Linked DNA regions of Homo sapiens. The protein of the gene in region 1 interacts with the protein of each later gene in a pairwise test. Each region holds a gene or a part of one and is shown in the gene's direction. Other genes may lie near its edges.

What was found.
Region 2: the proteins of WRAP53 (region 1) and COIL interact in binary tests that used the Homo sapiens proteins (3 or more experiments, as listed by UniProt).

The regions. Positions count from the first base shown.
Region 1 is NC_000017.11:7,701,240-7,704,002, forward strand, and holds the end of WRAP53 (telomerase Cajal body protein 1), read left to right. Parts: intron 1-219; coding exon 220-310; intron 311-417; coding exon 418-550; intron 551-1,104; coding exon 1,105-1,313; intron 1,314-1,503; coding exon 1,504-1,607; intron 1,608-1,753; coding exon 1,754-1,888; intron 1,889-2,003; coding exon 2,004-2,247; 3' UTR 2,248-2,263; downstream 2,264-2,763. UniProt on the Homo sapiens protein: RNA chaperone that plays a key role in telomere maintenance and RNA localization to Cajal bodies. Specifically recognizes and binds the Cajal body box (CAB box) present in both small Cajal body RNAs (scaRNAs) and telomerase RNA template component (TERC).
Region 2 is NC_000017.11:56,943,785-56,947,800, reverse strand, and holds part of COIL (coilin), read left to right. Parts: intron 1-1,289; coding exon 1,290-1,359; intron 1,360-4,016. UniProt on the Homo sapiens protein: Component of nuclear coiled bodies, also known as Cajal bodies or CBs, which are involved in the modification and assembly of nucleoplasmic snRNPs.

The DNA.
Region 1 (2,763 bases):
ATTACAGGCATGAGCCACCACACCCAGCCTCATTTTTGTATTTTTAGTAGAGACAGGGTTTCACCATGTTGGCCAGGCTGGTCTCGAACTCCTGACCTCAAGTGATCCACCTGCCTTGGCCTCCCAAAGTGCTGGGATTACAGGCATGAGCCACTGTGCCCGGCCATTCCTCCCCTTCCTTTGACAGCACCGGGGTTTCAGTGTCCATGTCTCTCTCAGCGTGGCCAGCAGCAGCCGGGAGAACCCGATTCATATCTGGGACGCATTCACTGGAGAGCTCCGGGCTTCCTTTCGCGCCTACAACCACCTGGTAGGGACCGCCATACTCAGCCCCAGCACTCGTACTGGCCCGGCTCTCCTTCCTTGAGGGCAGCTGAGGCTTTGCAAGACCTGTTTTCAGCCCTTTCCTTCCCCCAGGATGAGCTGACGGCAGCCCATTCGCTCTGCTTCTCCCCGGATGGCTCCCAGCTCTTCTGTGGCTTCAACCGGACTGTGCGTGTTTTTTCCACGGCCCGGCCTGGCCGAGACTGCGAGGTCCGAGCCACATTTGGTAAGCATCTGTGCCTCCAAGGGAGGAGGAGAGGGAAGGGCACTGCCACCTGCACAGGGGCCTTTTGTGAGCCGGGGGCCACCTGTGGGGGTTCACGCCGTCCTCTGTACGGCCCCGGGAGCAGGTGCAGCCCAGTCGGCAGAGGAGCAAACAGGCTCAGAGCAGGTAGGAAACCTTCCCAAGGCCAACCAGCTGGTCAAAGGACTGCTTCCTTCCTGAACTCATACCCTGTCAGCTGTGGAGCTTTTGGTCTCTGAAATCTTTCTAGAAAATTGTTGATAAAGCTGATTCCGTTTTCCTGTAGGCCTTCAACTTGCATCTCTCCAAGGAAGAACTGGGATTTGAGAGGGATGAAGTGGGGCTTGGGCATTTAGGTCCTTTGGGAGGATAGATGTGGGGAGCATCAGAGGTCTTTGTCCTGCTTGTGACAGACAGCATGGGGGGGATGTTGAGTCCAAGCATGTTGGTGCTGGGACGGGAGACAGACCTCTGCTTAGCCTGGTTAGTGCCAGGAGCCATTGCCCCCTCCCCCACTTTGTTCCTTCCCTCTCTAGCAAAAAAGCAGGGCCAGAGCGGCATCATCTCCTGCATAGCCTTCAGCCCAGCCCAGCCCCTCTATGCCTGTGGCTCCTACGGCCGCTCCCTGGGTCTGTATGCCTGGGATGATGGCTCCCCTCTCGCCTTGCTGGGAGGGCACCAAGGGGGCATCACCCACCTCTGCTTTCATCCCGATGGCAACCGCTTCTTCTCAGGAGCCCGCAAGGTAGGGGTCACACCCTGAGAGCCCAAAGCAGCTGGGCAGCGGGGCAGGAGCAGGGATGTAGTCTGCAGTGTAGGGGAATGGGTGGGGATGGGGAAAAAATCCCAAGCTGAAGGAGTGCCTGGAGACCCCGAGGGAGGCAGGGACATCCAGGGCTTTGGGGGTGACTCCAGGTCCTGTTCCTTGTCTCCAGGATGCTGAGCTCCTGTGCTGGGATCTCCGGCAGTCTGGTTACCCACTGTGGTCCCTGGGTCGAGAGGTGACCACCAATCAGCGCATCTACTTCGATCTGGACCCGTGAGTGGCTGTGACTCCTTCCTACACAGGGCCCTGATAAGCCTAGGAATGCCAGAGCCCAGCTGTAGGGTCCCAGTCCCTGGGTGTGAGGGGTTCCTGCCCCAGGGGTGAGGCCTCTGCCAGCAAATCTCTCCTCTCTCTCGCAGGACCGGGCAGTTCCTAGTGAGTGGCAGCACGAGCGGGGCTGTCTCTGTGTGGGACACGGACGGGCCTGGCAATGATGGGAAGCCGGAGCCCGTGTTGAGTTTTCTGCCCCAGAAGGACTGCACCAATGGCGTGAGGTCCTCAGTTCAATTCCAGAGATGTTGGGGCTTGGGTTGGGGAGGGAGGTGAATCCCAGAGGGAGCAAGTGTCCTCACTGAAGGCACTGATAGACCCTCCCCATCTCTCCCTCAGCCTGCACCCTAGCCTGCCTCTCCTGGCCACTGCCTCCGGTCAGCGTGTGTTTCCTGAGCCCACAGAGAGTGGGGACGAAGGAGAGGAGCTGGGCCTTCCCTTGCTCTCCACGCGCCACGTCCACCTTGAATGTCGGCTTCAGCTCTGGTGGTGTGGGGGGGCGCCAGACTCCAGCATCCCTGATGATCACCAGGGCGAGAAAGGGCAGGGAGGAACGGAGGGAGGTGTGGGTGAGCTGATATAAAAAGGTTTTTATGATACTAGAGTCTTCGTGTCTGTTTTGGGGGGGCATATGAGTGAGGTGGGGGACCAGGCAGGGGGACTGGCGGGCTCCCTGGTCCAGCAGCAGTGGGTATGGCATATTGGTCCTGAAACCAGGCGTTGAGAGGTGGGACCAGGCAGGAGCCAATGGGGCGGCTGAGCTTGGTGTGAAGTCAAGTGGGTGGGGGTGGGGCTTCATGCCATTGACTGGTTGGTTGCTAGGCAACTTGGTAAACTGAAGGGGGAAACCTGTTTGAAATCTCACTCCCAAGGTGGGGGCGGCAGGGGTCAGGGTGAGCGGGGCTGAGCAGGAGCTGGGTCAGACTGTTGGGTGTGACCGTGTGAGACTGTGCAGACAGTGACAGGGCGCCTGTCGCCCACACTCCACACTGTTTGCCATTCTCCAGCAGCATGGGGACCATTACTCAGCTCTGAGGGGAGCAGGAGCACTCTCCTCCGCTCCCCGGGGCTCCCCAGGAGGCAGACAACCCAGTTGCCA
Region 2 (4,016 bases), about 49 Mb from region 1:
GATACTGATTTTTAAAAATTGCTTATTAATGGCCAGGCACAGTGGCTCATGCCTGTAATCCCAGCACTTTGGGAGGCCAAGGTAGGTGAATCACTTGAGGTCAGGAGTTCGAGACCAGCCTGGCCAACATGGCAAAACCCCATCTCTACTAAAAATATAAAAATGAGCCTGGCATGGTGGCGTGCACCTGTAGCCCCAGCTACTCAGGAGACTGAGGCACAAGAATCACTTGAACGCAGTAGGTGGGGGTTGCAGTGAGCTGAGATCATGCCACTGCACTCCAGCCTGGGTGACAAAACGAGACTCTTAAAAAAAATTGCATATTAAATTGGTATTAGTTGTCATAGTTATTAATGTTGGAAGGTGTTTTGCCTACTTTAGTTGGCAAAATTTTTTGAAGATTTTTGAAATTGCTTTCAAAAACATTTTAAGAATGAAAATTGGTCCTACTTTTTTGCTTTGACCTCAAACGCAGTTATCCAGCTTGATCATCTGCTTTATTCATTAACCTTGTCTCCAAAAATTAAATTGGTTCAATTCTGTACTAAAAAATGTAGTCTCCCAAGCCCCTGATTCCCTGTTGAGTCTGGTTTTAAAAAAAACTGTTGACTGTGCTCAGAAATTCCAGGTAGAGGCAGGAGGAACTGGTTGCTTGGCCTCTCAGTATATACCCCCGGAGGCTACCATGTGTCTCCCCATCGCCCACGTGCATGGGCAGTGCATCCTCTTGATGCATTAGAAAATCAGCTCCCACAGCTGGAGACCTGGGAGAAGGAGAATTGGGATCTTAACAGTGATAAAGTGCCTTCTGGTTTCTCCTGGGGGGTTGTGATCACTGTTTTAGAAGGGTTCTAAAAGCATCAGGAACCGAGGCTGCACCATTAGGATATATCTAGTCTCTCCTGATGAATGCTGTGATGGTCAGTGCTCACTTGAATATATCAGCCTGGTGTGATTTTTTTCTCCTTTTCCCTTATTCAGTCACTTTTGGTTCCCTGGTGTAATCTTTACTTTCATCGAGTTATTTAAGATAGTGTCTGCCATTTATGATTTAAATGTTTTATTTTGCCTCTAAAGATATTTCTGTATATTCACATAAAGTGTTTATCAGTCCACCTGTTTTTATTTTCTCTATATGTGGATTTATTTCTAAATTTTTCAACTGAGATAAAATTCACATAACATAAAATTCAACATTTTAACCATTTTAAAGTCTACAATTCAGTGGTTTTTAGTATATTCACAGTGTTTTACATGTTGATTTTGACTTGGACTTTTATTTTTGAAAGGAAGGAAGAATATTAAGCCACAATCCAGAGACCCAGCAAGTAGATATAGAAATTCTTTCATCCTTACCTGGTGAGTCTTTTAGAAAATAATTTGAAAATGTAGGCTCTATCTACAGTGGTTTATAAATAGCTTTTATACACAGGAGATGTTCTCTTCCTTGGCCTCCATATAACTGGCGCTCCCCACTTCTTTCAGCACACTTTAGCCCTGGGGGCTCATAAGAGATGTTGGATATATTCCAAAGCTGTTGGGCTAGTTCTTATTACTGTAATTATATAATTTCATAAAAGATTATATGAACTGATGAAAATCGATTATAAAAAGAATTATTCCTAGGAAGCCTAAGTTGAATGCTGACTCAGGAAATGCTATGAAATTATGGATGAGTGGGTCAGCTATAAAAGATTGGGAGGAATTTTGTAAAAACTGAGGAAGATTCTGCACTTAGATTGCCTTGCAAATTTTTGCAATCTTGCCTTATTTAAGAAAAACCCAGGCTGGGCACGGTGGCTCACACCTGTAATCCCTGCACTTTGGGAGGCCAAGGTTGGTGGATCACTTGAGGTCAGGAGTTTGAGACCATCCTGGCCAACATGGTGAAACCCTGTCTCTACTAAAAATACAAAAATTAGCCGGGCGTCATGGCACACGCCTGTAATCCCACCTACTGGAAAGGTTGAGGCAGGAGAATCGCTTGAACCCGGGAGGTGGAGGTTGCAGTGAGCCGAGATAGTGCAACTGCCTTCCAGACTGAGTGACAGAGCAAGACTTAGTCTCAAAAAATATTTTAAAAACCCCCAAACTGTAAATTGTGGAAATTGCAGACAATACAATGGTATGGTTTATTAAAAAAAGAGCTCTATTCAGTGAACTCATAAGACCTACTCAGCTCTATTTCAAAAGATTGTCAAATGAATATACTTTTGTATATTAAGTCAAAACAAAATGTCTGAAGTGTGTGTATACATACACTTTCACATATCATTTTAAATGGTTGCTGGATTTATCTCTGATGAACCCCACCTGGTACTGGAACTGAATGCGTGGAATAAGAGGGCTTTTATAATATGTAGCTTAACTTGGGGTGTACTGTAGGGGTCCCTGGCCAGAGGGCAGGGGAGATTCCTTTTCCTTTAGAAGATCCTAAAGCAATTAATTGTTTTCCTTTTTTTTTTGACAGAGTCTCACTCTATCGCCCAGGCTGGAGTGTGGTGGCACAATCTTGGCTCACTGCAGCCTCCGCCTCCCAGGTTCAAGTGATTCTCATGCCTCAGCTTGCAGAGTAGTTGGGACTACAGGCACACACCACCATGTCCAGCTAATTTTTGTATTTTTAGTAGAGATGGATTTTGACATGTTGGCCAGGTTGGTCTTGAATTCTTGGCCTCAAGCAATCCACCTGCCTTGGCCTCCCAAAGTGCTGAGACTACAGGTGTGAGCCACTGTGCCCAGCCTGTTTTCTGTTTGTTTGTTTGTTTGTTTGTTTGTTTATTTTTGAGACGGAGTGTTGCTGTCGCCCAGGCTGGAGTGCAGTGGCGCTATCTTGGCTCACTGCAAGCTCTGCCTCCCAGGTTCGCACCATCCTCCTGCCTCAGCCTCCCGAGTAGCTGGAACTACAGGCGCTGGCCGCCATGCCCGGCTAATTTTTTGTATTTTTAGTAGAGACGGGGTTTTACCATGTTAGCCAGGATGGTCTCGATCTCCTGACCTCGTGATCCACCCACCTTGGCCTCCCAAAGTGTTGAGGTTACAGGCATGAACCACCGCACCTGGCCTTCTGTTTATTTTTAGATAAGGGATTGAATAAAAGATTCAGCTAACAGAAATCAGTCGAAAGAGTTTTTGAACAAAGTTCGTTTATGATATTAAGTAAATGTTTATATATAACTTACACTGGGTTCCTACCTTTCTTTTTTTTTTGAGATGGAGTCTCACTCTGTTGTCCAGGCTGGAGTGCAGTGGGCGATCTCGGCTCAGTGCAAGCTCCGCCTCCCGGGTTCACGCCATTCTCCTGCCTCAGCCTCCCGAGCAGCTGGGACTACAGGCACCCGCCACCACACCTGGCTAATTTTTTGTATTTTTAGTAGAGATGGGGTTTCACTGTGTTAGCCAGGACGGTCTCGATCTCCTGACCTCGTGATCCTCCCACCTCAGCCTCCCAAAGTGCTGGGATTACAGGCATGAGCCACCGTGCCTGGCCAGGTTTCCAACCTTTCTTCTGATGAGATTTCATTTATAGAAATCCCCTTTCTTAGGAACGGTGGACAGAAAAGTTTGTCCACTGTCAAATTCTGTGCATACAGCCTGATCAGTGCTTGTCAGGTGATTAATAGTGATGACATCCACTTAGAACTTTTCTTCTTTAGGGCATCAAGAAATGGCTTCGGGGGCGAAGGTGGGAGGATCACTTGAGCCCAGGAGTTCAAGACCAGCCTGGGCAGCATAGTGAGACTCTGTCGTAAAAAAAAAAAACAAAACATAGCTGAGTGTGGTGGTACATGCTTGTAGTCCTCGCTACTTGAGAGGCTGAGGTGGGAGGATCACTTGAGCCCAGGAGGTCGAGGCTGCAGTGAGTCATGATTGCGTCACTGCACTCCAGGCTGAGTGAGCAAGACCCTGTCTCAAAAGCAAAAAAGAAAGAAAGAAATGGATTTATCTGTTCTCTAATAGCAATGTCACTTGTCCTTGATGTGGTGGTTCTGATATACATATATTTCAGTTACCCT